Linked DNA regions of Homo sapiens: regions 1 and 2 are each linked to region 3. Evidence: fine-mapped expression QTL. A gene starts in region 3. Each other region holds a variant in brackets. All regions are shown on one strand. Distances are from middle to middle.

Region 1 (10,445 bases), 250 kb after region 3:
CCTGGCCTCAAGTGATCTGCCTGCCTCGGACTCCCAAAGCGCTGGGATTATAGGCATGAGCCACTGTACCTGGCCAAGCCTGCCTAATTTTTATTTTTATTTTTGTAGAGACCATTCTCATTTCTTATTATCCGAATTTTGAGGAATGTAGAATTGGTCCCCATTCCTATTACTGAAGACAAAAGGGCGGAGAAAGGAGAGGCTCGGGGGGTTAAGAAGAATACATTTGTGAGTATTCTTTATATTCAGGAATATGTTCTTCATAAATATAAAAATAATTTACTTATAAGAATGTACCTATAAGAAAAATGAATTAGATGCAATTAAATTAAATTAGAAACAGATGAAACTGACATAGCTTCAAGATAGGGAGGAGCCTTCAATTGCAGCCTTTACCTCCTATTTTGCACCAACACTTTCCTCACCAACTGGTGGTGTCTGCTACCATCTAGTGGTTGAAGTGGGGACAGCACAGGGGAGCTGAAGTGGAAAAGATGGGCGACTCAGAGGCCACTCCTCAAAGCAGATAGGGACCATTCTGCAGCTATCCTCAAACATTAGTCTCAGTAACAGGTTTAGAGGGACGGCACTTCTGTTTGTGGAAAGAAGTCTGCCACCCTATGGACCACACGAAAAATGCTTAATTGCTACTTGGGCCCTGTGCCATCCTGGAAACTTCTTTTTTCGGAGCTGCTGTCCTCTTCCTGCTGGGATTTTAGGAAAGGCTGAGGGCATCCCCTCTCACAGCTTCTCAAGGATCGAGAAAGTGGAGGTGGGCAGGGGTCGGAATAACACTATTGAGTGTCCCCTTCCTTCATTTGTGTATCCTTGGGACACAGCATGAACGGCAAGAGCTGCCTCTCTGAGGATTTTTCATCATTCGATCCCCTCCCCAAATCTGCATTTCTGTCATTCACCTTGGTCAAGGCTTCCACCCTCTCCCTGGTATCCAGAGGGAGGCCGGGGTGGGCTAGAGCCTGGAGCCCTCGCCACCAAGGAGGAAGGGCTAGACACAGACTGAGAGGAGGGCAGCCGCCAGAGCAGTTATCCTGGGAGCTCTCCTGAGGGCCTGAAACACTCAAAGGAGATTAAGTGGAAATCTGCTGCTAAATCCAGCTCCACCTGAATATTTAACAGTGAACATGGGACAGTGTAGTCCATAGAATGCCAACTGGCTGATGACTGAGCAGGCACAGGTGAGTGCATGCTGACTGCTGTTCCTCCTGTCCAGTGATCCCCTTCTGAGGCCCCAGGAGGCAGTGGCCAGAGGTGAGACCCAAGGAGGAGCAGGAAGCCTCCCAAAGCCAAAGGGAAAGGTCAGCTCAGCAGAGGCTCCGAGGTTGGGGACCTGCTTCAGAGTTGAATTTGCAGGACGAATGACAGCTGGATTTTACTTAGAGTGTGTGTTTTGTCTAGGGTGGCTGTGCTTGGGCAGGGGCTGAGGTGGGGCCAAGACCCTCGAGCTATGGAGGGCAACACTTGATGTTTGTCTTACTCCGTTTCTGCTGCTATAACAAAATACCTGTGACCGAGTAATTTATGAAGAACAGAAATGTATTTCTCATAATTCTGGAGGCTGAGAAGTCCAAGATCAAGGCACCAGCAGATTCAGTGTCTGCTCAAGGCTTTCTTTTTATCCTCATATGGCAGAAGGTAGAAGGGCAAAAGGGGCTGGCTAGTTCCCTGGAGCCCTTTTATTAGGGCACTAATCCCATTCACAAGGGCAGATCCTATTCTGACCTAATCACCCGCAAGGCTCCACCTCTTAATATTATTGCATGGGTGGTTAAATTTCAACACATAAATTCAGGGGGACATTCAGACCACAGCAGCATTCCTACTTCTTCATACCCTTGACAGTGACAATCACTGAGTTCCAGAAATTGCTACTTGAAAATGTGACCCATATACTGCCCAGGCTGGTCTCAAACTCCAGGTCTCAAGCATTCCTCCTGCCTTGGCCTCCCAAAGCACTGGGATTACAGGTGTGAGCCACTGCGCCTGGCCCAGTAGTCGGCCTTGACCTGTGAGTCTAGCCCAAGAGTCAACCTTGAGGATTCGCCTGGGTTGTCAAAAAATCAGATTCTACCAGTGGGGGAAGGAAGCACAAGGTGGCCTGGGGGCACATTCTCTGTCTGGGTATCTTTGGGGACACCTGTTCTGATTGGGAGCTGGAAAGGAAAACAATAAGAGCCATTGTTAAACAAACAGGTTTTCTCCATCGAATGACAAGTGAATGAATAAAACACACTATATCCACACAATGGAGTATTATGCAGCCATGAAAAAGAATGAAGTATTGATATACACCATAACATGGAGGAACCTTGAAAACATCATGCTGGGTGAAAGAGCCAGTCACAGAAGGCCACATCTTGTATAATTCTATTTATGGGAAATGTCCTGAATAGGTAACTCTGTAGAGACAGAAAGTAGATTAGCTGTTGCCCAGGGCTGGGGTGGGCTGCAGGTAGGAAAATAGGCGGTGACTGTTAATGTTCTTTTTGGAGCCATAAGAATGTTCAAAATTAGTTAGTAGGCATGGTGGCACAACTCTGTGAGTATCCTAAAAATTATTTGAAATGTATATTTTAAATGGGTGAATGGTCTGGTATGTAAATTATATCACCATAAAGCTGTTTTAAAAATACTAAAATCCAAAAAGTAAAAAAGAAAAAAAAATAGCTCTACAACTTCGGTTTGTAGAATCGAAAAGATGAGGTCAGGAAGGGGCCGGGGCTCACAGTTTCTGAGTTTTGGTGCTTCCAGGGACCCAGGAGATCCTCAAGCCCTGGGGCACATCAGGAGTGAGGAGGGTGGGTGTTCTGGGCTGGACTGTGACTTGATATTCCTTCAAATGGATATTTTAAAAAATGTTCATTTAATATTTGTTTTGTAGGCTGAAGAGAACGATTTGACATTAACCCAAACTGTGTATTTCTTTGCTAATGTACCAAATAAGGCATTTGTTATATGTGGTTTTCTACCCCAAACATCTTTTACACCAATGGCATACTAAACTGTTTTCAATTTAGATGATTAAAGAAACTGCCTATGAGCAGAACAAAAGCACTATACTGTGCACTCTGCAGTCTGGGGTTTCAGTTTCCTGGGACTGCATCTTAAGATGAGTGCAAGGAATTTTTGTTTTCCACTGGAGGGCACTGCCCACCCTGGTGGGAACAGAGAGATCCCTATGTAGTGGCTGAGTTATCTGGCACAGGCCTTAACTGGCTCTGAGTCTTCTATTGACTGCAGGGATGTTTTGTGCCCCCTTTAGAACTACACCCTGGACAGCTGACCCTGACAAGGAATAAGGTTGAAAGATGGGTTGCCACCTCTTGCTCCAACCCTGGTTGGGGCCATGGCTAGACTCAGAAGCCCAAAGCCACAGAATCACTGAGGTGAACAACTTTAGGTGAACGAAAGAGTCAGCTTCCCTGCTGAGGTTTTCCATCCCATATTTATGACAAAGGGCTCTGCTGGGGCCTGCACACAGCCATGGTCTGCAGCCACACCCTAGGTCCCTGCCACTCTGCTGTGTCCTGTCCCAGTTCTCTGCTCACCTGAGGGGCAGTGCTTGGGTCTTGGGAAGACCACTTGGTCCAGGTCACAGGAAGGATATGATTTATGGTCCTTTTGTCCAAAAGATCCTTTCCTGTCTCAGCCCCCTGCCTACTCGATAGACTCTGCTGCGCGTCAGTCACAGACATATTTGTTTCTGTGTACCTTGGGAGAAAAACACGAGTGTGGTTCTCAAAAGGATTCGGAGCTCCTGCGGGGGCTGGCCTGGTACAGGGCAGGAAAATATTCTGGGTCTAGTGAGGACAGAGGGGCCTTTATTTGGGAGCTGAAGATTAATGAGGAGGATTAACTGGATCTAAA[CAGAG/C]AGAAACACTGGTGTGAGTAAGAAGACGTGGGCACATTTCTGACGGAGACGAGTCATGGAGGAGCCTGTGAAATTCTGTCTCAAAGCTAAACCCCAAAGATTAAGTAAACAAATATGTCAAATGGCAGCTTGACATGTTCTTGTTATTTTACATTTTGCTCGATTGGCATTTCTCATCAAATTAGCGGCAAAGCTCCCTTATGTTTCCTGACGGGGGGTTAGCACAGTGGTTCACTGCACAGACTGCCTGAGTTCGAACCCTAGTTTGGATGCTTACTAGAGACTTTGGACCCAAAGTTACTAAACCTCTCAGTACCTCAGTTTCCCCATCTGTACAATGGCAATAATAAAAATAGCACCTACGTGTTGTAACCAGCACACCACACTAGCATTACCTGGAGGGATCTCTTCAGTGAGGTAAACCAATAAGATGTCCAGGAAGGAACGAACAATCTTTTCTCGGATGTGCTTCAATTCCCCAGAAGCTGAACATGGTAGGAAGAAATCAGTTTGTTCAGATCATGTTCTGTTATTATCTTGAAGTTTAGAAGCACAGGTTTATGTAGGCAGAGCTCAATAACAGCTCCATTTGGGAACACAGATACACAAATCTTATCTAAGTACTTCTTAATACCTTGCTTAAACATATGAGTCACTGTTTCACAGTAAAATGGAATGTTTGCTCAATATGGGCTATGATCTTAATACTGTGCTATTCTTTTTTTTTTTTTGGTAGAAAAAGCATAAGGAGAGTGGGCTTTGAAGTCTGTCCTGGCTCCTCTCAGATTGTGTCCAAATCAAACCTCCCAAACCATGTGTGTTCCCTGAGACAGGCCTCACTGTTGCTGCGACTCCCTTCTAGAAGGAGGCAGTGCTAGGGAATGTTGCTCACCCCCTAGACCACCAGTTCCCAAGCACCAAAGGAAGACGTTACTGCCAAGCACCAAAGGAAGACTCTGCTTCTGTGGGGCCTTCAACAAGCCCCTCTACAGCTTGGACTCTGATGCAGGTGCTCCTTGTACCTCCCACTCCCAGAGAAACACTACCCTAACCCATCACCCCAACCTTTGAAGGAAATCAGTTAAACAAATAATGAAAATTCTACTTTTCTTTCCAAGTGGCAGAGAGGCTAGTTTCCATTAGGAGAAGTTCCAGCTAAGATAGAGGGTAGTCTTCATGCTAAAGCAAGGACTAGCAAGCCCGGGAGAGGGAGGAAGAAGGGTGTGTGTGCGCACCTGGGTCTGTGCCCATCCAGAATTAGGTTTCAAAGGGGGAACTATTGTGCCTGTGAAAACCTGAGTCATCAAAGTGCAAAGGGGGAAAAAGAATACAGAGAGGAGCAGTTGCGCAGGAGAGAGAGGAGGTCCCTTGAAAGGCAGTCATTTCCGTGCACTTTAAGGCAAACAGCTGGGCCCCCACCTGGACTCTGGAAAGCCTTGCAGGTGAGGAGGCTGAGCTGGCTGCTCTGAGGCCCAGACCAGGAGGCAACATGTGTTCTACATACACACTCCCTGGACCCATCTGGGGCTCAGCTGGGAAGGGATGAGACAAGGACCTGGGCTGCCAGATGCAATGCTCAGGGTCTCCAGGGGGTGTCAGAGAGTCAGGGCAACAGAAGGCGGGGCCCAGGACCCTCTCCTGGGAGCTGCCCCACTGCAGGAGCTGCTGGGGGTGGTATCTTAGTAGCAGTAGCCCCATGGGCAGAGGCAGCCTGCAGCTTACTGTCAGCGTGAGGGGAGGACAATGAGACATTTGAGAGCCTGCAGTGTCAGGCTGGCCATGCCTGGTCTCATTAGCCTTCAAGAAGGGGCCTGAGAAGAGGCTCTGGTGCAGGCCCAGGGAGGTAGGGTCAGAGGAAAGAGCCTGTGAGGGGTCTCAGGGGAGCTAAGCACCCACGGGAATTTGGCCCCAGCCAGGGAAAGATGAGAGAGAGGGTTCTTGCCTTATCTCCCTGTTGCAGTCTTAGTTGGACAAGTTGGGGCCCCAGTGTCCCCTGGAGGTGGCCTAACTGCAAAGCATGTAGGCCACAAGGGGCTTTTCTGGGTTGCCCCAGAGGTCCCCTGAGCCCTTGAGGAGCTGGATGCAATCAGAAGTGGGACCATATACTGCCCCCAACGTCTCCCACCCTATTTCTCAGACTCTGTCCCCACTATTTCCCACTCTACAAGGCGCCCTGTCTTCCTGCTCTGTCCTCTCTCTGACCTTCAGGCTGGTGGTCAGAGGTCCTCTTGGCGGTCCTGGGACCAAAAGTCTCATCTCAGCACCCTGAGGAGTCAGGGTCTGTTTCCACGTCTGGTAAACAGGAACAGTAACCCCTGGCTGCCCACAGGCTGTCACGAGGGCACCCTCGGCAGTGCTCCCCCAAACTCCCCTAGGGTTAAACTCACCTGGGGTGCTTGTGAAGTACCCAGGGTCCTGTGCCGCATCCCAGAGCCACTGGATCTGGATTTCTGGAGAGGAAGTCTGGCAAGCTAGAGTTTTAGCAGCTTGAGAAATGTTGGAAAGGAGTGAAGCAAAAAGGCCCCATTCACTCACTCTTCTTGGTTTGAATCCTGCTCCACCCGCCAACTGCCTAGCTACAGGACCTGGGGGAATTTGCTCCTCTAACTCAATTTCCTCATTGGTAAAATAGGTTCCCATTAGAGCTTATCTTGTGATGTTGTTGTGAGGACTAAATACGAGGAGCAAGCCCCAGGCTGGCACAGAGAGGAGCCACAGTAACTGTGAATATCACTACTAGATAGGCTTATGGAGTGAACGTGCTTTGTAGGCTGATAGATGAATTTTTTCTTCTCTTTATATAAAGTGGGCTCTGCCCTCTCTTCAATAAAAGACAGTGTCTGCACCAACCAATCCTCAAAACTCAAGTATAGAAACTGGATTGTGCACTTAATCAGGGTGGAATAGAACAGCCTGTGCCCACCCCCTCCGCTGATGGCTCATGAAATGGGCCAAGTGGGAGTGAGGCTGGCCTCCTGCAGCCCTGCACCTGGGCACCCTGCCCCATGAGGAGGAAGCAGGGCAGGGCCCTCTGTGCTCATACCCCTCTCCCTGACCCTTCCCTGCTTCAGGATTGCTGCCTTAAAAAAATTCTTTGACTGTTACCCCAAGTAGACCCACCCCGGATTTTACTGCATGCTGCAGCCCTCTTCATTCGTAAACCACCCCGTGGAGTCAGTCTGTTCAGTTCAAGGTGAAGATTTTAACTCAGGCTATTTATAATTCCTGCAATGGAGCGGGTGTTAGTTTCAAAGCAGTCATGCCAGATGTCAACTTAGAAGCTGAGAGGGAGACAAGCGTTATTATAAATTAATGTTGCCAGTGATTAATATTTGATATTTTTAACACACGTTCGTCTCAGAGGAAAAAAATCCTCTTTAATTAATGTGGCTAGATGTTGTGCAGTCCTTCCACTGACGTGGGATTACTGAAAATCTTTGGGTATAGCTTTGGGCAAAAATCTGACAGAAGAAAATAATTGAACCCTGAAGTCAGAGTCAGAGTTTGATGCCCCAGTGTCTGTACACCTGTCTCCTTCAGCTGGGACTGTCGGGGTTGGGCATCCGCCAGTCTCCTTCCCCCTTCCATCCTTTCCCCTCGGGACCTCCTGCTCCCATTCTGGACTGGTCCAGGCTGGAGAAGACACTGGTTGGTTCCATCACGGCCTGGGAGTCTGGAGATTTTTCTTTAGTCTGGGCTTTGCCAATATGTGAAGTGGCTCATCCTGTAGACTGTCACTGGGTGGGAGGAGAGGCTTGCCCTATAGACCTCTGCTATTTTGTCTGCACAGTGCAAAAACAAATGGTTGCTCTTATTTCAAAGCTGGTATATTTCTCCCCACATCCACATTTCCTGTATCTCTTGGAAAATGGCAAATCCTGGCATCCCTAGTGTGGGTTCCCACAGTGGCACTAACTTGTGATATTATCTTTCTTTTCAAATGTTCCTGAACCCGCCATTGATCTTGGCCTCCACTATACCTTCCTCAGGGTGGCCATCTGGTGGCTGGGGTTAGCATCTGACCTGCAGACAATTTGGTCTGCAGGTGTTGGCCTGCATTATGCTTAAAAAATAAATTGGGGCCAGGTGCGTTGGCTCGCACCTGCAATCCCAGCAGTTTGGGAGGCCGAGGCAGGCGGATCACGAGGTCAGGAGATCGAGACCATCCTGGCCAACATGGTGAAACCCCGTCTCTATTAAAAATACAAAAATTAGCCAGGCCTGATGGTGTGCGCCGTAATCCCAGCTACTCAGGAGGCTGAGGCAGGAGAATCGCTTGAACCTGGCAGGCCGAGGTTGCAGTGAGCCGAGATTGCGCCGCTGCACTCCAGCCTGGTGACAGAGTGAGACTCTGTCTCAAAAAAAAAAAAAAAAAAAAAATTGGAAGGACACTGGGCCTGGTGGCTCATGCTTGTTATCCCAGAACTTTGGGAGGCTGAGGTGGGAGGATTGCTTGAGGCCAGGAGTTCGAGACCAGCCTGGGCAACATAGTGAGACATCTGAAATGAAGCAATTTGGAAGATAATTAAATTAATTGCATTTTTTTCTTTTTTGATCTGGTTTCTCCTAAAATTATTTTTCAACATTTATTTTTAAATTTAGAATTTGAAGCACAATCTCTAGTATTTTGTAGGCCCATAAAATGTTACATGCCTACTCCTTAGTTTAGTAAAAATAGATATAATTTGGTAGAATCTCTGGTAGGCGATTTTTTTTTTTTTTTTACATCAGCTAACATATTCTTCTCCATTACCTGCCTGGCCCCTGTGGTCATCTGGGCTTTCACCCTTGCCAATGTCACTGAGCCTCATGTTTCTTATCTGTTAAATGAGGCCTGAGAGGCTGGGGTAGAAAGATCATGGATTCTGGAGTTGAACTGGTCCTGGATTGAAATCCTGGCAACACTGTCTTCTCATCTTGGAGCTGAGTAACGACTTAAGTTCTTTAAGCTTCATTTTTCTCATTTGTAAAATATAGATAATAGCAACCACCCTGCATGCTCTTGGTGATGACTAGATGAGAGGAGAATAATAAGAGCTTGCATTCATCGAGTGCCTGCTGTTGCCAGGCACCTTGCATGGCCTCACTGATCATCACAAAAAACCTACAAGGTAGAAGATGTTTCCAGATGAGGACGCCGAGGCTGGGAGGGATGACTGTCACAAGGGCAGAGCAGGGGCGCTGAGCACACAGTGGGCACTCAGGGACCCAGGGCTGTGTAAGAGACATTGCCAAGGTCGCCTCTACTCCTGAAAACCCCATGATTGAGACCCTGTCCCTCTACTTTTCACAGTGACCAGGCCAGGGAGGAGTGAGTTTTGCAGATGTTCAAAGACAGAACATAAAACCTGAAGGTGTCCCTCTTTATATTCTGAGTTTTCAAAAGGTGCATATTCCATTCATTAGATTATAGTTTATGATATTTGGTTCATAAGAGTATACTGATTTTTATTTACAAGTAAACCTATTTTTTTACTGTGTTGTATATGTGACATAGAAGTTACCATTTTAATCATTTTTAAGGGTATGGTTCAGCAGCATTGAGTAAATTCATGTTCTTGGGCAAACATCACCACCATCCATTTCCAGAAATTTTTCATCTTCCCAAACTGAAACTCTGTACCCATTAAACAATAAATCCCCATTCTCTCCCTGGTCCCAGCTCCTGGAAACCACCATTCTACTTTCTGTCTCTGAATTTGACTCCTCTGTGTGCTTCACATAAGCGGAATCATACAGTATTTGTCTTTTTGTGACTGGCTTATCTCACTTAACATAGCATCTTCAAGATTCATCAATTTTGTAGCACGTGTTAGAATGTCCTTTCTTTTTAAGACTGAATAATATTCATATATATATATACACACACACACACACACACACACACAGACATACACACATATGCCACATTTTGTTTATCCATTCCTCTGTGGATGGACACTTGATCCTACCTTTTGGCTATTGTGCATAATGCTGCTACAAACATGGGTATACAAATATCTTTTTGGAACCCAGCTTTCAATTCATCTGAGTGAACTGAAGAATCCCACAAGTGGAATTATTGAATCATACAGTGTTCTACTTTTAATTTTTTGAGGAATTGCCATACTGTTTTCCATAGTGGCTGCACGATTTCACATGCATACCAGCAATATACAAGGTTTCCAGCTTCTCTAAGTATTTGCTAACACTCGTTTTCTCTCCCTTCCTTCCTTCCCTTCTTCCTTCCCTCCCTCCTTTTCCTTCCTTCCCTCCTCCCTTCCCTTCCTTCTTCCCCTATTCCCTTCTTTTGATAGCAGCCATCCTAATGTGTGTGATGTGATATCTCATTGTAGTCTTGATTTGTATTTCCCTAATAATTAGTGATGTTGAGCATATTTTAATACGTTTCTTGGCCATTTGTATCTCTTCTTTGAAGAAATCACTTCTATTCAAGTCATTGGCCCATTTAAAAATCAAGTTATGGCTGGGCGTGGTGGCTCATGCCTGTAATCCCAGCACTTTGGGAGGCCGAGGTGGGTGGATCATGAGGTCATGAGTTCAAGACCAGCCTGGC
Region 2 (10,479 bases), 54 kb after region 3:
AGGTATCCTCCTCAAGCACCCAGAAGGTAGGTCAAGGACCTGGAGGAGTCTCCTTTTCCCCACAGTAAGCCAAAGGCTGGGCCCAGGCATCCTGACCCCTACTGTCCCCAAGGAAATTGTTCAGGAATGAATCGTAGGCCAGCTCAGCATGTGACTAGGGCACACGGGGAACCCACCGGAACACTTTCTCTCAGTGTGCTGCTTGTCTAAGGCATGATGAACAGGTGTTTGAGAGGGGACGGTGGACAAGCAAGGATCAGTCTATTCCATATGGAATTGAAGCATGGGTGCTTAATTCATGAGAAGAGCCCAGACATTGCTACTTATTCCAGAATCTTTCCTCCCCTTCATCTTACTAAATGGACATCAATTTTACTTGGGGCTGTAATGTGTTCAGTTGATACCTGATCTCTCAGACTCTCTTGCAGATGTTCACAGTGCTGGACCTTGAAATGTAGGTTCAGGGCTCTGGGAAGGGTATGTGTGCCTGCAAAGAAAGGCCCAAGAGGCTGCATTTGGCCTCACCCTTCCCCTTCTTCCTGCCTGGAGGAGGAGATGCCTGGGAATGAAGCAGCTGTCTCACACTCCTGAAAAGGAAAGCTCTATGCTAGGATGGTGGGGCAGGAGCTAGAAGGATCTGAGGTTCTTCTTGACTTTCTTGACAACATCTCTGGACTATCTACTTCCTGATTTCTTGTTACATGACACAAATAAAAGCCTCATTTGGGTAAGCCAGCATGGTTGGGTTTCTAGTACAGGGAGCCAAATACAATTTTAAGTGATGCCTAAAGATTGTCAAAGAGGGTGCCTTTTTGTGTGATTGCAGACTCGCCAACCAATGTGCATTTCCTGTCCAGGTTCTGTCCTCAGGCTCACTTCCTCTTAGGTAAGACCTGGCCAGGCTGCATTGTCCCAGCAGAACGCCCAGCAGGCCTGGGCATGCATCTCAGATGAGGCTGAGCTCTTTGACTGTTCATCTGTATTTATCACTATGGGGGAAAGTGAAGAATAAAATACCATGGATTGTTTTTACTCCTCTCAAGAGACAATGTGGAATACAAGAAAATACATCTTGGCTGAGAAGTCCCTGAGAATTAAAAATTTGATCCTCCTGAACTAGGAACAGGGGGGCTTTTCCCTCTCTTTATCAAACCATTTAGGGCATAAGGGTGCTTCCCACTGAAAGCCCCATGGATTGCAGATCTTGAAAATCCTTTGGGATCTGTAAGATGTTAGGACTTTGTAAAGAGGAATTGATGATCTTAGACTAGATAGTGTGAGAAAAAAAGAGGAAATGATGAATATATCATCTATCAGGTTTCAGGTTTTTCTCAATCAACCAACATCTTTTCAAATGCCTACCATGTGTCTATATAACTTTCACAAAATGAACAAATGTCTTTAAAAGATTCCTGCAAAGAAATTCGGGTTGGAGATAATATCAATAGTAAAAGCATAAAAAACAAAAAGAATATTTCTGGGGTGACCCTTTTCTTTCTTTATAAGTTCTTTGTTAGCCACTTTATAAGGCAAAAGCAATGAGAATCCAATCAGATCTGAAAAGAAGTTGACAGAAAAATGCAACATTTAAAAAACAATTGTCTCTTTGGGAGGTCGAGGTGGGTGGATCACGAGGTCAGGAGATCGAGACAATCCTGGCTAACACGGTGAAACCCCATCTCTACTAAAAATACAAAAAATTAGCCGGGCACGGAGACGTGCGCTTGTAGTCCCAGCTACTCGGGAGGCTGAGGGAGGAGAATGGTGTGAACCGGGGAGGCGGAGCTTGCAGTGAGCCGAGATCGCGCCACTGCACTCCAGCCTGGGTGACGCAGCGAGACTCCGTCTCAAAAAAATAAATAAATAAAAAGCAAAAACAATTCTCTGAAACATGGTTGCCATTTATTATTGTTAATGAAGGATATTGTCCTAAGAGTTTTTGTCTTGAGATATTAGCTAATGATAGCAGAAAATTTCCCAATTAGTAAGATATTTAAAAATTAAGCATCTAGACCATGAAGAAAAACTTTCTCAATTTTTTCATTGATGCTTGAAGTCATTACAATGCTTAATCCGGTATTTAACATTTCATTAAATCTAATGATAAACATATGCGTGAATCCTTTAGTGTTCTTAGTAATTGCAAAACACAAAAAGCCATATGCCCTTAGGGAAACACTTGCTTTTTCTACCATGAAAAATGGCTGAAATAAGACATGAAAAACAATATGGCAATAAAAAATGCAATCTTTTGTCAGCAGGCATTATTGACAGATGCATAAAAAACATTGCTGAAAAAATTTTAAATGAATATTAGGACAAAGTATGCCTGATAGGAAATCTGCTATATATTTGATTTAAAGTATAGAGATTTCTAACATCTCAGTTAATGGGATTTGCTACATTTTGTTGAAATACGAGAATTATATGATAAAGCACTATTTTTGAGCCACTAAAGGGAGGATGAGTGGGAAAAGAGTAAATGACTTCCCTAATAAAAACGCTTTATAGAAAAAGTATTGACTGGAATAAAAAGAGGGATCTGGTGTGGTTACAAAGATAGAACCACACTTAATATTCCTTTACTGGGCAGCAAAGAAGTTAAAGCCATATGTGCACAAAATGCTGTGTTGTCATTGATGATGTTAATTTTATAAAAAGAAGGTCTGTAAAATATAACAGAATTCTTATAACACTTTGAAATGGGATATGGAGTGACCAGGGAGGTCTTTTGATTCCCATAAAGGTTTACCAATTTTCTCATGGCAAGTACTTAAGGTTTATCAAAATTAAAAAGTTACTTGTTTTTCTTATACAAAACAACAAGCATTCCATTTTAAAGGTGATGCTTTATTATCTTTTAAAAATTGATGACATGCTAAGGAAAAAACATTTGAAAACAGATGTTTAGATGTTTCCATCATTACACAATTTTGCCCAAAGCACTGTTTTGTAATACCTTTAAATCTCTCATACCTGTACACTTAAAAAAGGATTGGAAACAAAATTTTCTACCTTATTTTAAAATCTTGTGAATGAGGCCATATGTTTTGATTCCATTTTATTAGAACTATAAAGATATAATTATATAATAAATGCTTATAAAATACAAAGTTATAAAAATATTTGTTTGCTTAAAAGAACAGACTCTGGGTGCTATAGCAATTATGTGATGCTTATTGTATACTGCCTTAGACTTCTGGCTTCTTATCTTGAACACCTGACCTCAAGCCATCCTTGAGCGCTGGGATTACAGGCATGAGCCGCTGCACCCAGCCAACCTCTGGCTTCTTATGGAGTACTTTGTCTTTTGATGCAACTGGGAGCTCAGTGACTGCATCTTCTTCTTTCTGTGCCTTTCCTCTTCCCTAACTTCCCCAACCCTACCCTGCCCCAGTGCCTACCTCTTTGATCTGCAGCCGCTGCATTTGTGAAAGTGAATTTGAAGTTCAGGCCAATAGGGAGTTTCCAGTTCTTGTATCATACATTTTAAGGTCCATTTACTTGACCTACTCTGGCTCCCAGAAGCCCATAGGATAAGCTCTAATTTCTTAGCAATACAGCTGTCCTTCTGCCTCACTGTCTCTATCAACCTTGTCAAACCCACCTTTCTCCAATACTTCTCCAGAAGCCCTTCCTCTCCCCTACTAAGTGGAGGTCTAGATTTGTGACAAGGTACTTCTTAGGTCCCATTTCTTCGGCCCTCACCCCCTCCTTTTGGTCTTTTCCTCCTCTGAGGGCTTTCCTATAGTGCTTACCTGCACAGTCAGGACTGATAATAAGCATTTGTCGTGATGAGGACGTCCTGTCTTTCCCGCCTGTCAAGCCTTGAGCATCTGTGGTGAGACTCCGCGTAACCCCATCACCTAGGATAGCCCTGTGAACAACAGAGGATGCTGTGCACAGGCCCTGTCAGGAAATGCTCATTGGTGACAGCATGACCTCTGGTGTCTGTTTCATGACCTGTTTGCATCTGTCACTTGCACATTTTTCTGTGGTGGAGGGAGTTGCCATGTGCTGTGGTTCTAGAATGGCTGCCTGCCTGGTGGCAAAGGGAACATGTGGGTCAGCAGTGGTGGGGCTTTTCAACCTGTTTTGGGGACAGCCAGCTATCCTGAGCCCAGGAAACTGAGGGCTGGATGCTGGCTCATCCCTTGGGTAAGAGATACGGTAATAACAGCTGTTCTGGGCCAAAATACATTTAGTGACATCTTGGGAGATTTTGGTGCATGAGGCATGCTTTAAAAATACATGAGAATTTAAGGGTTTTTTTTTTTCCCACATCTGCTGAGGAAACATGTCCACACATCTAGGCTAATATTAGGGCTGTTTATTTCCTAGGGTTGACATTTCCTTGGCTGTCTAAGATTGCTGCTGGAGATAGAATGACCGATATTCACTTTGGCATCCTTCAGCCAGAAAGGATGATCAAGGTTAAATAGGAGCAC[G/A]TTTGGGCAACACAGACAGACAGACACCCAGAAATATGTACGCCACTCCAAACAGGGTCATCATCTGACCCACAGTGTTGCTGGGGCTCAAAGTGGCCCTTACATAAAGGACTCCAGTTTAGAGGGTACATTTCATATGGGAGACTGATTGAGAGGTTCAAAAATCCAGTTTTATACATAGAATAAGAAACAGTTCTTCCCGTGGGAAAGACTACTTTGGGGAACAAATTGAGGCCTGGAAGGCAACCAGCCTTCCTCTCTAAAAAAAAAACAATCTCTAGCAAGCTTTCAGTGAGGGGGGGGAGCTGAATGGGGGTCTCCATTTGGGGAGAGTCCTTCTCAAGCATCTCTACCTCTGGGCTTTTTCTCTCCTCTGGGTACAAAGCTCCCCCATTCTCCCTGGTCAAATGGATGGGGTGGGGGAATCTCTTTCCCATGTTATTCTTGGTACAACTGAAGAATTCCAAAAGGGACTTTGCATACAAAAAAAGAGAAAAGGTGTTTTTTTAACTGAACAGGTGTCTTCTGGCCCCGGGCAGTAAAGCCAAACACTGACATTGGGACTGCAATGAAAGAAACCGAGGCATTTATTGTAGGGCACCAAGCAAGGAGAATTGGGCCACTAATGCTTAAACCCTGAAGTCCTCAGTGGCTTACAGGTAAGAGTTTTTGAAGGCAAGGAGACGGAGGTTACAGGCAAAGTCATAAATCAATACATAGAGTCTGTGCATTGGTTTGACCTAAAAAGGCAAGACATCTCAAAGTGGAGGAGAGAGGAACAGGTCATAGGTGGATTCAAAGATTTTTTTGATTTGTGATTGGTTAAGGAGGCTTTGTCTAAAAATTTGGAAGCAAGCAGAAAAGAATTATTAGCTCTGGCTCATGGGCATGACCTCCTCCAAGCCCTTCAGGAAGAATTTTAGAAGAAAGAACAGAGGTCAGAGTTCAGTCCTTAGTCCCCCCTTATCTGAGGTCGATATGCCAGCAGATCCATTTAGTAGGGGTCCGGGTTTCTGAAAAACAACTCAGGAACATATGTTGAGATGTTATCTTTAGTTTCTAAAGGGAACCAAACATGACTTTAACTTCCTTGGCTATTGTTTTAAGCCACTGTTACCTTCCTGCTTACCAAGTTGCTTATTTACTTCTCAAGGCTAGCTAGGAGCCTGCAATTTTCCTGGAAGGAACTCAAGATTTTTCTTTATTTAGACCCCTAAGAGGGATCCCTACTCGTCTCTGGAGAAGGAGGGGGAGAAAGAAGGGAGAGAGCTGGCTGGGCGCAGTGGCTCATGCCTGTAATTCCAGCACTTTGGGAGGCCAAGACAGGCGGATGGCTTAAGGTCGGGAGTTCGAAACCAGCCTGGTCAACACGGTGAAACCCCATCTCTACTAAAAATACAAAAATTGTCCAGGCATGGTGGCACACACCTGTAATCTCAACTACTCGGAGGCTGGGGCGGGAGAATCACTTGAACCCGGGAGGCGGAGGTTGCAGTGAGCCGAGATTGTGCCACTGCACTCCAGCCTGGGCAACAGAACCAAGACTCTGTCTCAGAAAAAAAAAAAAAAAAAGGTGGGGGAGAGTGAAAGAAAATAAAGTACAAAACCACTTGCAATCAAAACAGAATTTATTGATGCTATACTAGTAACTTCTTTTACCCTGTCCCTTCCCCCACACTCTGAGCATCTTCAGAGAAAGATCTCGTTTATAGTGTTCAGGTTCTTCCTAGGCTAGAAGCCTCGGAAAAATAAGTTTACAAGTGGCTGATGAGTGAACAGTAGAACTCTCAGGCTCCCTGAGTTTCCAGCAGCAGAAATAAAACATAAATAAAATAAAATAAAATAAAATAAAATAAAATAAAATAAAATAAAATAAAATAAAATAAAATAAAATATTCCCCACCCAGAGGATGGCCCCTAGCAGTCAGGTTTTAGGCTGCTAGAAGAGGGCTCCCAAAGGAGCTTTTAGAGAGGGCTGCCCAAGAAGTCATCCAGGCCCCTGTTCCCAGGCAACACTGAGGAACTCTGCACTCCTCTGGGCTGCTTGAGTTTCTTGCATTACAACAGTACTTATGTCAAAAAGTTAACCATCTCTGGTTTGGAGAGAAAGGCCCAATAGTCATCATCTTCCATTTTAGCACCAGGGAGCCTGTTCTGGGGCCCCGAAGAGGAACTCAGAGCCAGGGAAGAGGCCCTTGGAGGTGGGTAGGACAGGGTAGGTCCTGCCCAGCACTAGACCCTCTCCTCCTGAAAACACGGAGAAACTGGGCTGGTGGTGCTCCAGCCCCAGAGAGGCCCTTGGTTCCTTTGTTGACCCTCCCAAGTGACTTGTTGCACCTACCTTCCTACCTTGTTTGTCATTTGTTCATTCATTCATTCTTTCAGCACAGATAGACCCAGCCTACCATGTGATAACACTAAACCTCAGAGCACCGCAGGAATACAAAAGAAATACATGTAGCCTTGTTCCCTTTTCACATAGAGAGCTAGGGACAGGGTGGGGACTGCCTCTTGAAGTTCCATGAAGGCAGAAGAGGCACTGTGGAGCATTTAATAGATGCAGGCATTCTTCTGCTTAAGTACAATTCACCCAATTCCCCCGACAGCTCTGGAAATAGGGGGAGAAATAATGGGCAGGGAAGCAAGTTAAGTGGCTGATCAGGGACACAAGTACTGGCTTTGTGGTAACCAGATCCCAACACTGTTGCATGGGGAGAGAGTCTCAGTTGACTGAAAGGATCAGATATTGAAACATTCATAGCCGCAACACCGAAACTGCACCCTGGAGGGCTGAGTGAGGAGGGGAGGGGCTGGAGTGCAGAACAAACCTGGTCCCACAAATAAATCCAGCCCCAGGACATCACTTTCCTAATGAGAAGCAGCAAGAATTTCTGCAAGGTTTTTGGAAGACCCTTTGGAAACAGTCATTCATTGTTGGTAACCCTCACTGAGTCCTTAGGAACAGCCAGGCTTGCTCTAAGCACTTTACATGGGATAACTCCTTTAGTCTCCCTAGCAACCCTAGGAAGTAGGTACTATTACTATTCTCATTTTGCTAATGAGGAAAGGTAAAACGACTTGCCCAAGGGCACAGAACCTTTAAGTGGCAGGGCTGGGATTTGAACCCAGCCTAGCTCCAGCCTCTGCTCCTAGCTATAAGTCTGCCACAGCTGTTGTTGCCATTCTTGATCCAGATTGGCCCCCTTGCTCTTTGTATGGGCCCCATTTCTTCCCCTTAAGTCTTGGCATCTGTACCCCAAGGGACCCGAATACCAGGAGAGACCTAAAGTCTGTGTTCCCCGGACCCGAGGACCCCGTGCCTTGATGTGCCATTGTCATGGGGATGTTTGCCCCTTCTGATGTCTCCTTCTTAGCTCCTGGTTAGTTCTCTTGAAGCATCCCACTTTCTCACTTTGGCTTGCAGGGCAGGCTGAGCAAACACCATCTGCCAAGAGGCCTGCAGCAAAACAAACTGCAGCAGCCCCAGAGGTCTTGTAGCTTCCATTTAGCAAGCAGCCCGCACGCCTCTGTGGGCAGAACCCTTGGGGAGAGGGCTGCTATTCATCACTTGTTTGGCTGTGGGAGGCTCAGCAGTCTGTGTAGGGTGGGCTTTGCTGGGGAGAAAGGTGCTGGTTTTCTGAGAGCTGAGGAGGCCACTGGGAAGGTTTGGGGCCCAGGAGGGCTGCTGCTGGACTCCAGGTTGCTCAGGATCAACGTCTTTTCTCCATTCTGATGCAGAAGAACCATGTGCTTGCTTGTTTGCTATTTATACTGCAGTTGCTGTCTAGGGGTTTTCTTTGAAGGGAATGAATAGACTCTGAGGCTCTAAGTACATTTCTGGCTCAGTGCTGTGCTGCACACACCTCAGTTCAGCTGATACGAGGCCCGTCCTTATTCCCCGCTGCCTCCATGTCCTTCTGGAATCCGTACATTCCAGATAGCACCACTCCCCAATGCCTCCACCGCCCACATGAACACACTCCTAAGTACATTTACAATCCGGCTCCTGCTTCCTTCCCTGGCCAGCAAAACTTCATTTCAGCCTCTCTTAGGATTAGGTTATGCCCTTAGCCATCATCTTATTCTGTTCCTTTTAGCAAGATGCGAACCTCTACATTCTGTCATTCTTAATCCTCCTTGCCCCACTTCCTATGTATCTCACCACCAGGAAGGGACTGAAATCGCCTTTGCAGAATTATAAGTAATGAGAGAAATCTAACATGACAGACTCCATCTTGCTTCTAACCTCACAGGCTAAATTGGTTTTTTGCTTATTCTAGTCTGGAGGCCAATATAACTATGAGAGGAATTTGGTTTACAGTTAAACTTTGAGGCCAGAAAAACTGCCCCTTCCTTGTTCAGAGATTGAAGTCGCATTCGTAATACATGGTTAGAATCATGGTAAGGGCTCTAACTTTGCTGAAGAATAGGCATAGTTAAGCAATAACCTGCCATGACTTAGCATGCTTTTCTAGAAGTTTTTTACTACCCCCGAGTCATGTAAGCAGGGGTCACAAGATTTATAACTTCCCCAGCTATTCCTATATAACATCACTATTGTGAAACCTAAAGAACTTCCCCATATGTATCTGAGATATTTTTGAGATTTTTTTTCAGATTTGGCATTTTGGCAGACCAAGAGATAGATGCCACCTGGTCTTGAGACCCCCTCCCAGTACCTGACTCAGCTGCACAAAGGCAGCTTTAGACACCCCTGTGATCTTATCCCCTGTCAATCAATTGTTTCAATTCTCCAGCCCCCTGGCTGCCAGAGTGCCTTTAAGAAACTCTAGCCTTGGCCGGGTACCGTGGCTCACGCCTGTAATCCCAGCACTTTGGGAGGCCGAGGCGGGCAGATCACGAGGTCAGGAGATCGAGACCATCCTGGCTAACACGGTGAAACCCCATCTCTAATAAAATACAAAAAATTAGCCAGGCGTGGTGGCGGGCGCCTGTAGTGCCAGCTACTCCGGAGGCTGAGGCGGGAGAATGGCGTGAACCCGGGAGGCAGAGTTTGCAGTGAGTCGAGATCGCGCCACTGCACTCCAGCCTGGGAGACAGAGCAAGAGACTGTCTCAAAAGAAAAAAAAAAAAAAAAAGAAAAGAAAAGAAAAAAAAAGAAACCCTAGCCTTGGAATTCTCGGGAAGACAGGCTTGAGAAGTTTCTCCCGTTCTGCTCATGTGGCTGGCCCTGAGATTTTATTTTTTTTTTTTTTTGAGACGGAGTCTCGCTGTGTCACCCAGGCTGGAGTGCAGTGGCGCGATCTCGGCTCACTGCAAGCTCCGCCTCCCGAGTTCACTCCATTCTCCTGCCTCAGCCTCTCTGAGTAGCTGGGACTACAGGCGCCCGCCACCACGCCCGGCTAATTTTTTGTATTTTTAGTAGAGACGGGGTTTCACCGTGGTCTCGATCTCCTGACCTCGTGATCCGCCCGCCTCGGCCTCCCAAAGTACTGGGATTACAAGCGTGAGCCACCGCGCCCGGCCTACCCTGAGATTATTAAGCTCTTTCTTTGCTGCAACAACCTGCTGTTCTCATTGTTTTCTTCAGGGCAGCAGGCAAGAAGAACCCATCAGTCTGTGACAGGGCCATCTTTTCAGAAAGCAAATCTCCCTGGGCCTTCCTGTAGCCTGGTATTTTGTTTTTTTCATTCAGGTTTATTAAAGTGCAATTTACACCAAGTAAAATACAACTCAAGATTTTTGACAGACACGTCAGTTGAGTAACCACCACCACAATCAAGATACAGAACAATTCCATCACCCCAAAACATTCTCTCATATACCTTTAAAGCCAACAACTTCCCCCATCGCCAGCTTCTCACAACCACCAATCTAATCTGTGGTGGTTTTATTTTTCTCCCCTCTGGTTTCGCCTTTCCCAGAATGTTACATAAATGAAATCTGGAGTCTGGCTTCTTTCACTCAGAGAGACTCAGCCATGTTGTTGCAAGCAGCAGTAGTCCATTGCTAGGTAGTATTCTGAAGTATGGATGTACCACAGTTTATCAGTTCACCAGTTGAAGGACAT
Region 3 (10,479 bases):
GCTTCAGCTGAGCTTCCAGCCAACAGCCAGTGTCAACTGCCAGCCACATGAACACAGCATACTGAACGTTTAGCCCAGCTGAGCTTCAGATGTTTGCAGCCCGCTGACATCTGATTGTAGCTGCATAAGAGACCCTAAGCAAGAACTGTTCAACTGAGCCCTTCCTTATTTCCTGACCCATAAAATAATAAACAAAATAAAATGGCTGTTGGGTTTATATCACTACATACTAGGGGTAATTTGTTTCATAACAATAGTAACCAGAATATGAACCTTAGTGATTATCTGGTCAAACCTCCTTGTACAACAATGGGGGAAACGGAGGCCCAAAGAGGAAAAGACCAGACTTCCCACAACCAAGCAAGGGGAAGATCGGGGCCAATGCCTGGGTTTCTTGACTCCCAATCTAGTGCACTCTCTGCCACACAGCAAGAAACTGACAGGGAGGACTCCTCCCCCGCCACCCCCCGCCTCATTAATTCCATGCATCAAGCAAGCATGAATCAGGTATTTTGAGTGCCTGGGATTGTGCTGAGCACTGGGAATATACAAAGGACCAGGCAAGAGTCCCTGGCTCGCAGAGGCAGTCACAATCTGACTTGGGCATCTCCCTTCCTGGCACACTCACTGGTGCCAGGCACGCTGCTGCATTCTTTAATTACATCATCTTAGGTGGGAAGAAACCTTGAGATGGGAGAAGACTATGCCTGTCATTCAACCACAAACCCTTACAAAGATTGATCCATGCCAGGCACAGTCCTGGCTGCAGAGCATAAAGACTCAGTGGGGATCTGCTCTCTGTCCCTGGGTCTGAGCTGCCTGGGTTCTGGGTCCCTCCATTCTGCCCAGGGCTGACCCAAGCAGGGAAGAATCCCTGGACTTCAGGAGCACCCAAGAGGAACCTGAGTTTGGCCTGTCTCTCCAGACACCTGCTTCCCCTTTCCCCAGGATATTGCTGGAGGGGACTGGGCCCATCAGGACTAATTAACTCCTCTAATGGAATGAACCAGTTTTTCCTGGAACTTAGCCCAGGTGGGAGCAATCTCTACTTTTCTAGATGGAGAAATGCTAAGTGTCAAGAGGTCTTGCCAGCCGGACCCTGGGCTAGCGTGCATGTGGCAGGCGCGGTGGCGGGAGTGTGCTGTCTGGATGCAGGCTGAGTTCCCAGCCCAGGAGCCTTAAACAAGGAGGCCTCTAGGGTCCACTCAGCTGGTGGCCCCCGTATCGTTCTCTGTCCTTGGCCCAACACCAGCCCTAGCTCCGTCTCTCAGAGTTCGCTGCTGCTGCTTAGGCCTGACATCCCTAAGCGGGGGGAAGGTGTCCATGAGCTAACACTCAGGTCCCCTCCAACCCTATGACTCCAGGTCCATAGTGTATGAGGCCCTGAGCCCTGCCCAGGCCCGAGCTTCTGATCTCTTCTCTTTAAGAGCTGGGCCTTCAAAGGCCACCTTTGAGCCCCAGATACAACTTCACTGGGATTACCACAGCAACCCAACCCTGCTTTCAGTCCTGAGGCAGAGCCATTCTACTGATCTTCACAAGACCTGAATTACTAGGGCTAGGTTCTCCCCAGAGCCCCTCCCCCACCAACCCCCCTCCCCCCAAAGAAGGCTCTCACATTTGATTTGGAGCCTGCAAGTCTCTGCAGGCTGCTTGGGGTTGGGGGAGGCAGGATGAAGTGAGCTGAGACGCAGACAGGAGGCTGCCAGCCTGCTCTTGCCTTCCCTTCTCTTGTTCCCCCATGAGCGGGGAGGCCCTATCACCCTCTAATGAGTCTGATAAAGCAATTCAATTTTCCAGGCTGGGAGAGAGTGAGGCATGCTGGGAAAGGATGCTGGCTCCTTGGCCTGGACCTGAAGGAGGGTCAGTCCCTGGCAGGAGCTAGAATACCAAAAAGGGAAAGTGTGAGCACCAATGGATAGAACCTTGCCTTGGCCTGGAGCCCCTCACCACAAACAGGTTTCAAAGAAGGAAGATGGAGAGGAGATTGGATGGCTCCAGTCATCCTAAAGAGGCTGAGCCCATACAAAGCTCCCAGTGGGGAAAGGGGAAGGGTAAACGGCTTTGATTTCAGGCTTTCAGCTTCCTACGGACAGGGTCAGCGTCGGCACTCAGAGGGTGAGGACCTTATTATGCGGGTGGAGGGGGGGCCTGGAAAGGGTGCAGGTGCTTGACAGCCTCCATCGGTGCCCCTTTAGAATCTCCCATGGCCCTCTCTTCCTATTCTTTCACCACACCCTCACCCCTGATGAGGGAAACCCGCTGTGGCTGACACCTTCTGTGAACTGGCTTTCAGACAGGTGCTCTTCCCTGACAGCCTGAAGAAGCCAGGGCACTAAGGAGAGGACAAAAGAGAAAAGGTGAAAATGAGGGAAAGAAGCTTGGGGAACTAGGAATTTCCAATAGTGGCTGCTTTGTGGTCTTGCTTAAGCCTGTCAGGTATCAAGGTCTTGGAGGAATGAAGAAGGGAGGGAGTAGGCAGAGTCCCAATGGCAGAGTTAGGCTAGAAGATGTACCTGAGGTCCTGGAATCAACAGGAAGCCCAGAATCAGCTGCCACCCCATCTGCCCACATCACAGCCCCCAGAGCTCAGGGCGAGGTCTGGAGCCAGGATGTTCTAGCACCACCAGAGGGCAGCACCCTCACATCCATGGTAGGCTGTGTCACAGTAGCCTGGGCAGGGGGCTCTCCTATCCTTCCCCGGCTCTGTGTTTTGAGGGAACACCAAGACCTCACACAAAGAAATGATGGGGACAAGTCCCATAGTGCTAACTGCAGCATATCGACTCCCTCAGAGAGGTACACGTAACAGGTGAGCCCAGAGTTCTAGAATAAACCTTCAGCAAGGGTGAGGCATTCTCTGGAGGCCTCAGGACTGAGGCTGAGCTCCCCTCTCCCGAGCTGGTCAGTGCACAGAGCTGGGAGTCCTGGCCCCATGCACCTTTACCCAGCTGCCTCTCTCAGGCTGGGCCCTCTGTTTTTGTCAGCTCTTCCTAGGTTCCTATGCCTGTGTCCCAACTTTCTGATCTTCCTCCCTTCCCTCTTGGCCTCCTTTTTCCCTGGCAGCTTTCTCCCTTTACCCATCTCCCCAGGTGCTCATCACTATCCACAAGCACCGCAGAGTGGAAGCACCAGTTGGGCAGATTTACTAGGATGAGTGGCTGTTTTATTCACTGATGTATTTCCAGTACCCGGAACTGCTTCTGGCATATCGTAGGTATTCAATAAGTGTTCATTGAGTTAATAAGTCAATCAGGGGTGGGATACTATGGGTTTTGTCCCCTTGCCTACTACACTCCCTTTGTTACAATTACTGAGCTCAGTCATCCTGATGAACGGAAAGCAGGGGAGAGACCCCAAGGGACTTTGCCAGGACACGGACCAGATAGGACTTGAAAGTTATTCATTACATTAATATTCTGTGGTTCTTTCTTCCTCACTCCAGTTTCTGGCCTGTCCCGGGTCTTCTCTTCCCAGTCACACTTGGGATATTTCTTTTCACTGCAGCAAACTCAAAGACAGCTAAACTCTGAAATACAAACATCAGTTTCGAGGAGCAGGGACTGGGCACAAAGGGGGTGCCAGTAAATGTGTGTTTCTGATTAACTCACCTCCCCTGCGTGTCAGTACAGATCATCAAAGATCATTGTCATTTTGGTTTTCTGGCCTCATTAATAATGAGACTTTTGCTTGTAAAAATCCCTTGCATTGGCACTGAGCTTTTAACCTTTCCTGAGACACACATAGGCCCTTGTCTTGTTTTTCTCAGTTGAGCTAGGTACTGCCTGATCTGGAACTGGGAAGGTGCACAGGTGTCCAGGGCAGGTGTGTCATTCACCTTTCATTTCTGCCTCAAGATCTCTTTACATCATCCAGACAGGCATGGAGGCTGCCTGAAGCTGTAAAAAAGAAAAAAAAACCCAATGGGGATTAATATGAAGATGTAAAATAGGTTCTGGACTTAACAAAAACAAATGAATCTGGAAATTGCTCTTGGGATAGGGCCAGTAAAGTCCTGTTGGTGCCTACGTTTTGGGTATGGCAGCTTCTCAATCACTTAGCAAACAGGTTCTCAGAGGCAGGCACTGTGGGAGCTATCAAGATGAAAAAGCACAATGCCGCCTGCAGGAGCTCAGGGTTAGGGAGGGGAGAGGAGACATATACACAGGCAAAGTCAAATTGTAATGGGTAGAATAAGAGTAGAAACAGGAAGGGGTCATGAGGCAGGACACGGGCATTTCCTATGTGGACCCCAGAGCAATGACGAGCAAAGGCTTTAACTAATGACTTTTCAGGGCCACCCACCCACTCCACATCCATAAAACATTTCGCGATGAACACAGCCAGAGCTACGGTTTCCTTCCATCCGGCACAAGAAGCGCTTCTCTGCCCAAGGCCACCCCGTCCTCCATTCCATCGCGGGGACTTTGGTGGCTGGGACAGAGGCGGAGAGCATCAAGACCATGGGTGTCTTGGGCTACGTTGGGCCTCCGAGGCGCAGGATGCGGGGCGGGGTGGTCAGAAGGCCCCAACACGGTCCCTGGGAAAGGAGAGGGCAGCCTGATCCTCGCGACAGCGTCTCTACCCTCTTTCTTCCTTGGCCTTCCGTCAGCCGCAGTGAAACGGCAACAGTGCGACCAGCTTGGCGGGGAGGGGGCGAGGGACGAAGCAAGAAGAGCCGGGCGGAGGTTAGAGGTCAGGGGTCGAGAGCGCTTCGGTGTCAGCGGGCTGCGGTGGGAGGAGCTGCGGGCCCGGGGGAGGCGCGGAGCAGGGCTGAGGGGGGCGGGAGGGGTTGCCGGCGGAAGCGCGCAGGGGCGGCGCGCTGGGCTGGGCACTGGCGGCGAGGAGGTGACGCGCTTGGTTGGGGCTCGGCTCCGGGGAGGAAGACTGCGCTCGGTCGCCAGGGCCTGCAGTGAGTCGGATCGGCCCCGCGCTGCGCCGCGCCCCGCCCACCCCGCCCCGCGAAGGGCGCGTCTGGGCGAGGCGGGGCCCCGGAGGAAAAGGCGCCACTGGGGCGTGGCGGCCGCTGCCAGCGCCGGAGGGAGACCATGAGCCCCTAGGGCCCCAGCCCACCGGCGCCGAGGCGCCCCCTCCCCTATGCCACCTCGCGCCCGCCCCCTGCCGCGCGCGAGCCAAGGCCGGCGCCCCGCCCGGAGATGGGCAGACGCGTAGATGGCGTGGCTCCCAGCGCCGCCAGATCGCAGGAACCAGGCGCCGGGGCGTTGCGCTGAGGCTCCCTCTCCGCGCGGCCCGGGAAGCCTGCAGGTGTCCTTGGCCGCTCGGCCGCCGCCCCCGGTACACCTTCGCCAGTGCCCAGAGCCCGGCTCCCCAGAGCGGCCCCGCCCCCCAGGCTCGGCGCCGCGCAGGACGCCCCGTCTGAGGCACCCCCGCCCCAGCGCGGCCCCCGCAGCGCTGCGCCCGGTCCGGCGCAGCTCCCAGCCGCGGACGCAGGACCCGAGGCTCGCTCCTGCGGGCGCGCTTGTTTTCCAGCTGCCGCCTCGCCCTGCGCAGCCCCCGCCCGCCCGGCCGCCGCTCTCTGCTCTGCCCCGCCTGCCTTCCTCGCCCGGCGCTGGATTTATGAATGGGGGGAAGAGGCCACATGCCGCCGCCGCCGCCTCGTGTTGACCGCAAGCAGCCCGGGCCCACGGAGCTCCGGCTGCCGTGAGAGTGTCGGCCTGGCCCCGGCAGCCGCTCGGAGGACTTGTTGCTGCTGCGCTGCCGCCGCTGCGGGGAAGCCGGCTATTCCGGGGCTTGGTGCGGTCTTGGAGCCGGAGGGTGGCCCGTGTGAGCGCGAGCGCCCCGGACCTTCGCGGTGCGCGTGGACTGTGCGCTTCCTCGTCTTTGGTCGGGGTGAAGGCGGGGGCGTGTCCCCGGCCCAGAGCGTTTGTGTGTCCCGTCGTAGCGGGGGACCGCGTGTGTGCTTGCTTCTACTTCCCCGGGTCCTCCCTCTCTGCGCCTCCCTCTCTCCGGAGCTTCCTGCCCTAACCCCAACCACCTGTGTACCGGAGAAATCCAACTCCTCCCGCTCCGCGTCCTAGGGGGATAGGCAGGGGCAAGCCCAAGCCGCAGAGGGGGCCGCCACCGCCTCCTGCCTCCTCTTCGTCTCCTCCCCCTCCCCCGTCTGACGCTGCCTCCTCGGGAAGGGTGTTTGGAGGGCAGCGGCCGCCCCAAGCCGGAGCCCCGCAGCGCTTCTTATGATCAGCTCGGTGTGTGTCTCCTCCTACCGCGGGCGCAAGTCGGGGAACAAGCCTCCGTCCAAAACATGTCTGAAGGAGGAGATGGCCAAGGGCGAGGCGTCGGAGAAGATCATCATCAACGTGGGCGGCACGCGACATGAGACCTACCGCAGCACCCTGCGCACCCTACCGGGAACCCGCCTCGCCTGGCTGGCCGACCCCGACGGCGGGGGCCGGCCCGAGACCGATGGCGGCGGTGTGGGTAGCAGCGGCAGCAGCGGCGGCGGGGGCTGCGAGTTCTTCTTCGACAGGCACCCGGGCGTCTTCGCCTACGTGCTCAACTACTACCGCACCGGCAAGCTGCACTGCCCCGCGGACGTGTGCGGGCCGCTCTTCGAAGAGGAGCTCACCTTCTGGGGCATCGACGAGACCGACGTGGAACCCTGCTGCTGGATGACCTACCGGCAGCACCGCGACGCCGAGGAGGCGCTCGACATCTTCGAGAGCCCGGACGGAGGCGGCAGCGGCGCGGGGCCCAGCGACGAGGCCGGCGACGATGAGCGGGAGCTGGCCCTGCAGCGACTGGGCCCCCACGAGGGAGGCGCGGGCCATGGCGCCGGGTCTGGGGGCTGCCGCGGCTGGCAGCCCCGCATGTGGGCGCTCTTCGAGGATCCCTACTCCTCCCGGGCCGCTAGGGTGAGTGGCAGGAGCCCGTGTCTCCCCATCTTGGGTCTGCAAGGGGTCCGTGGTGGGTGGTGGGTAGGGGCCGGGAGGAGCAGGGACCGAGCCTGACTTACCTTACCACCGCAGATTGTTCCCGCCTTCCTCTCAACCCCCCTCCGTGGCTCGCAGGGGAATTACACACTCCCACCCTCTCCCCTGCACGCTCCATCAGGAGATTGCACACACTTGACTTACTACTTGGACCCAGTCCCAGCTGCCTGCTTTGCCGCATCCCCTCCAGTGAGTGGGGTGCCCAGCTCAGCTCCTCCACCCCCTTCTTTGGTCTGCACAGGCTGCCCTATCTTCAGCTGCCCTCCACTCCACACAGGACTACGGTCCTGGAAGAGCTGGAATTTGGTCTTCTGATGGGGGCAGGCAGGGTTGAGAGGAAGGAAACTAGGGTGGGTTTTGTTAGATGCTTCCATGCCGTGCCACCTCATTTACATCCTCCCAGCAGCTCAGTGTGCTCACAACTATGCACTTCAGAGAGGAGGATATAGGCTTCAGCATCTTAAGCTCAGAAGAGGCAAAGCTGAGACCACAATCCGGCCTCCTTTCCAGGTTTAAGAAAGGCATTCTTTCTGCCAGGGAGGATACCATGCCCCTGAGGCTTCCTGCACACCTGGGATGTCCTGGCCTCAGCTGGGGTGAGAGGAGAATTAAACACGAAGGGCCTAGCGTTCTAGGCTCTGCAGGCTCCCACGGCCAGTGGCCAGCCACAGGCTTCCTGGTGATGATACCAGATTTTTGTTGCCGCTTCTTTTCTTTCTGCTGCAGCACAAACTGTCTTTCCAGAAAGCCCTGGTTCAGGTTACTGCTTGAAATGGGTGTATGAGGGAAGGGGGAAGCACAGGTTGATTTAGGCAAGACCTACCGCCTCCTCCCCAAGTAAATCCAGTTTCCCTAACTCCTTTAGGTGAAAGGGGAGAACGGGGGAGGTGCTTCCCCCATTATGCTTCGACAGCTAAAAAAAAAAAAAAAAAAAAAAAAAAATCCCTGAAGGATGGCTTTAGATTCTTTAAAGAAAGAAAACTCTGGGGGCTGGTGTCGGATCTCATGGTCAGCAGCCTAAAGCCTGGCTGGAGTCTGTCTGGGAGACAGGAAAGAGCAATGTAACTTGTTGGGTCTGGGGACTGCTGCTTGCTGTGGAACCTGGTTGGTTCCTCCAGCATCCCAAATTGTCATGTTAATGAGTCTCAGAGCACCCTCCCTTTCCCAGCACCCCTGTGCTGGACTCCTTCCTAGTCATAGAAGAAGGCAGGGTAGGGAATTGGGGAACAGGCCTGCAGGGAAAAGCCAGGCTGGCATAAATGCCAGGCCAGGGCAGATGCATCTTCTGCCTGGAAGAGAAGGGAGGAGCAGAGGTCTCAGGGGCCATGGCATACCGGGCTGGGGCTGCAGGCAGCCACGAGAAGGCAGGGATCTTTCTCAGGACTGACAACAAAGCTAGAGGCAACTGTCTGGGTTTCTTTCCTTGCAGCCCTGAGACTGGCTAAGAAGGTGAGGGCATAGTGATGCCCCTGGCCTGGGTCTGCTGTGAGTTCTACAGACTTCTCATGTAGGTCACTAACCTTGCTAGTGTTAGCACTTGGCTGTCTGCATTAGGGGAGAGAGGGCAGGCACACATCATTCAGACTCTTTCAAAGTTGGGGGTCGGGGAGGAGAGATAGAGATAGAGATGGGGAAAGGGGACAAACCAGGGAAGCAGGGATGAGATGAGGTGGTTAGGGGAGCTAGGCCCTATTTCTGAGCATTCTGGGACTTCTAGGGGCTTTTCACCTGCTCTTCTTCCCCTCTGGAATTCCAGGTGGCACCCCACATATCATTGAGTTTATTTTCTTCCTAACTCACTGCTGAATGGCCAAGCCAGGGGGCCTCTTTGAGTAAGCTCAGAGCCTGGCCTGCCCCTGGAAGTCTTCCCAGGAACCCAGGGTGCTTTGCCCCTTTGACATGGAATCACATCAGCCCAGGCATTCCAGTTGAGGTCTTGAAGTTTATGATGGAGCAAGGTTAATTCTTCCATTTAAACATTGAGAAAACCAGGATTCAGAGACATTAAGTTTCTTGCCAAAGACATTTAACTAATAGCAGAGGCAGGAAACCACCCCTAGTTTCCAGCCTTCTGGTTGTTCATCCTGATGTGAATATCTGGATGGAGCTCTGGCCAACACATGCACTAAAAGAGGACTTGCCTCCTGCTCAGGAGCCCAGGCAAAGGCAACCCTCACCTGCTCCCGGGACACACAAGTGGGAATACATAATTTTTACAAATTAATGAATAACTGCTCATTATTGAGCACCCCAGACAGATACATTGCTGTATATACTTTACATTAATCTCTAATCCTCCCAATAAACTTAAAACCCGGTGATTATCCCCGTTTAATAGATTGAGGCTGTGAGAAGGTAAACAACTTGCCTGAGATCACACAGCCAGATAGTGGCCAGGCTTTGAATCAAAGCCAGAGTCCCTGACTCCCAAGCCCTTGCTCTTGTGATTACAACACCTTCTTTCCACTGAACTAGGCTGTTTTTGAGGCAGAGAGCTTGTTTCTTACTGTAGCCTGAGAAATGTCCTTCTGAGGTTCTGTACCTCCTGTGGATGACATCAGAAAACCCAGGGGCAGATGGAGACGTCAGAAGGAAGACTTACTGTATTACCCCTCCAGGCCTGAGGGTACTATGCCATGCGGGGAGTTCTGGGGCTGCACTTTCCCCCCTCCATTTGCCCCTGGCTTGTCACACTGTCCCATCCTTCCCAGCCCTGTTCCCCCCGGTATATGTGCTACCTTCCCTCGCTCACAGCTACCTCCTCCCTGGAAGGGCCCGCAGCACTGTGGGGTGGTGGGCGAAGAGGGAGAGAGGAGCAGTGCTCTGCCCTGAGGCGTCCTTTCGCACACAGCAACCTGGTCATTTGAGTAGTGCGTTATGACAGGAGCAAAACGATACAAATGGAAAGTGAACTGAGCTGATTATGAGAGCCTGTTGCCTAGCTACAGGCCTGGCCCAAGGAGCTGTTCCGCTCAGGCAGGCTCCTGGACTGGGATGCTCACCCCTGCTCCACTGTGCTGGGCCCATGGGCAGCTGCTGCTGTGGTTCCGTTTCTGTGGCCTGAGCTGGGAACAGGTACGAGGGGCAGGGCAGAGTGAAGGCTCACCGTGGAGACTTCACAGCCTCAGGGGGCCCAGTGGAGGTTTGGCAGCATCCGAAACTTTAGAAACCTGCACCTTCTTTTCTGAGAGCAGACAAGAGGCCTGGAGAATGGGGCCAGGATGCCCTTCCCCTACCCTAGTCTCCAAGGTCTCCAGGGCAGGGCTGGCTTTAGCTCAGCTATCAGCCTTATTAAGGATTACAGTTCCTCTCCTTTGGCTAAATCAGCACATTTTTCCTGTGATGTTTCCCTTTTGAGTAGAGGAGGGGACCCACAGGAACTCCCTGCTCCAGGAAGGCAGCTCCAGCAGGGTCTTCCCCTTTGTTAAGTGTCAGTTACTATGTGGGAGGCTTGGCCTGTGCTTTCTGCTACTACTCATCTGGCCTAGGTGAGGCAGATATTGTTAACATCTGTGTATCAGTATACAGA

Alleles and levels. Alleles are on the strand shown, and positions count from the first base shown. SD is a standard deviation of normalised expression in the study named. Not every link is listed here.
For the expression in gastroesophageal junction of the gene that starts at base 5,009 in region 3, CAGAG is the high allele of the variant in region 1 and C is the other (small effect, 0.24 SD a copy in GTEx).

What was found.
Region 1: its variant is fine-mapped to the expression of KCNC4 in gastroesophageal junction (GTEx, PIP above 0.99).
Region 2: its variant is fine-mapped to the expression of KCNC4 in lung (TOPMed, PIP above 0.99). The same link has a PIP of 0.9 or more in skeletal muscle.

Annotation. Positions count from the first base shown.
Region 1 is chr1:110,459,995-110,470,439 of GRCh38, forward strand. No RefSeq gene overlaps it. Among named protein-coding and RNA genes, the nearest start is that of PROK1, 14 kb to the left of the region's middle. The variant CAGAG/C (reference allele first, on the strand shown) is at 3,886.
Region 2 is chr1:110,259,081-110,269,559 of GRCh38, forward strand. It overlaps a transcript of KCNC4 not described here. Among named protein-coding and RNA genes, the nearest start is that of KCNC4, 54 kb to the left of the region's middle. RefSeq lists an enhancer at 3,788-3,867. The variant G/A (reference allele first, on the strand shown) is at 4,449.
Region 3 is chr1:110,205,306-110,215,784 of GRCh38, forward strand. KCNC4 (potassium voltage-gated channel subfamily C member 4) reads left to right here and starts at 5,009. Exons shown (of 4, transcript NM_001039574.3): 1 at 5,009-6,872. The coding sequence starts at 6,195. KCNC4-DT (KCNC4 divergent transcript) reads right to left here and starts at 4,682. Exons shown (of 2, transcript NR_046546.1): 1 at 4,306-4,682; 2 at 3,145-3,899. RefSeq lists silencers at 2,607-2,666, 2,677-2,726, 4,689-5,368 and enhancers at 6,606-7,494, 9,846-9,925.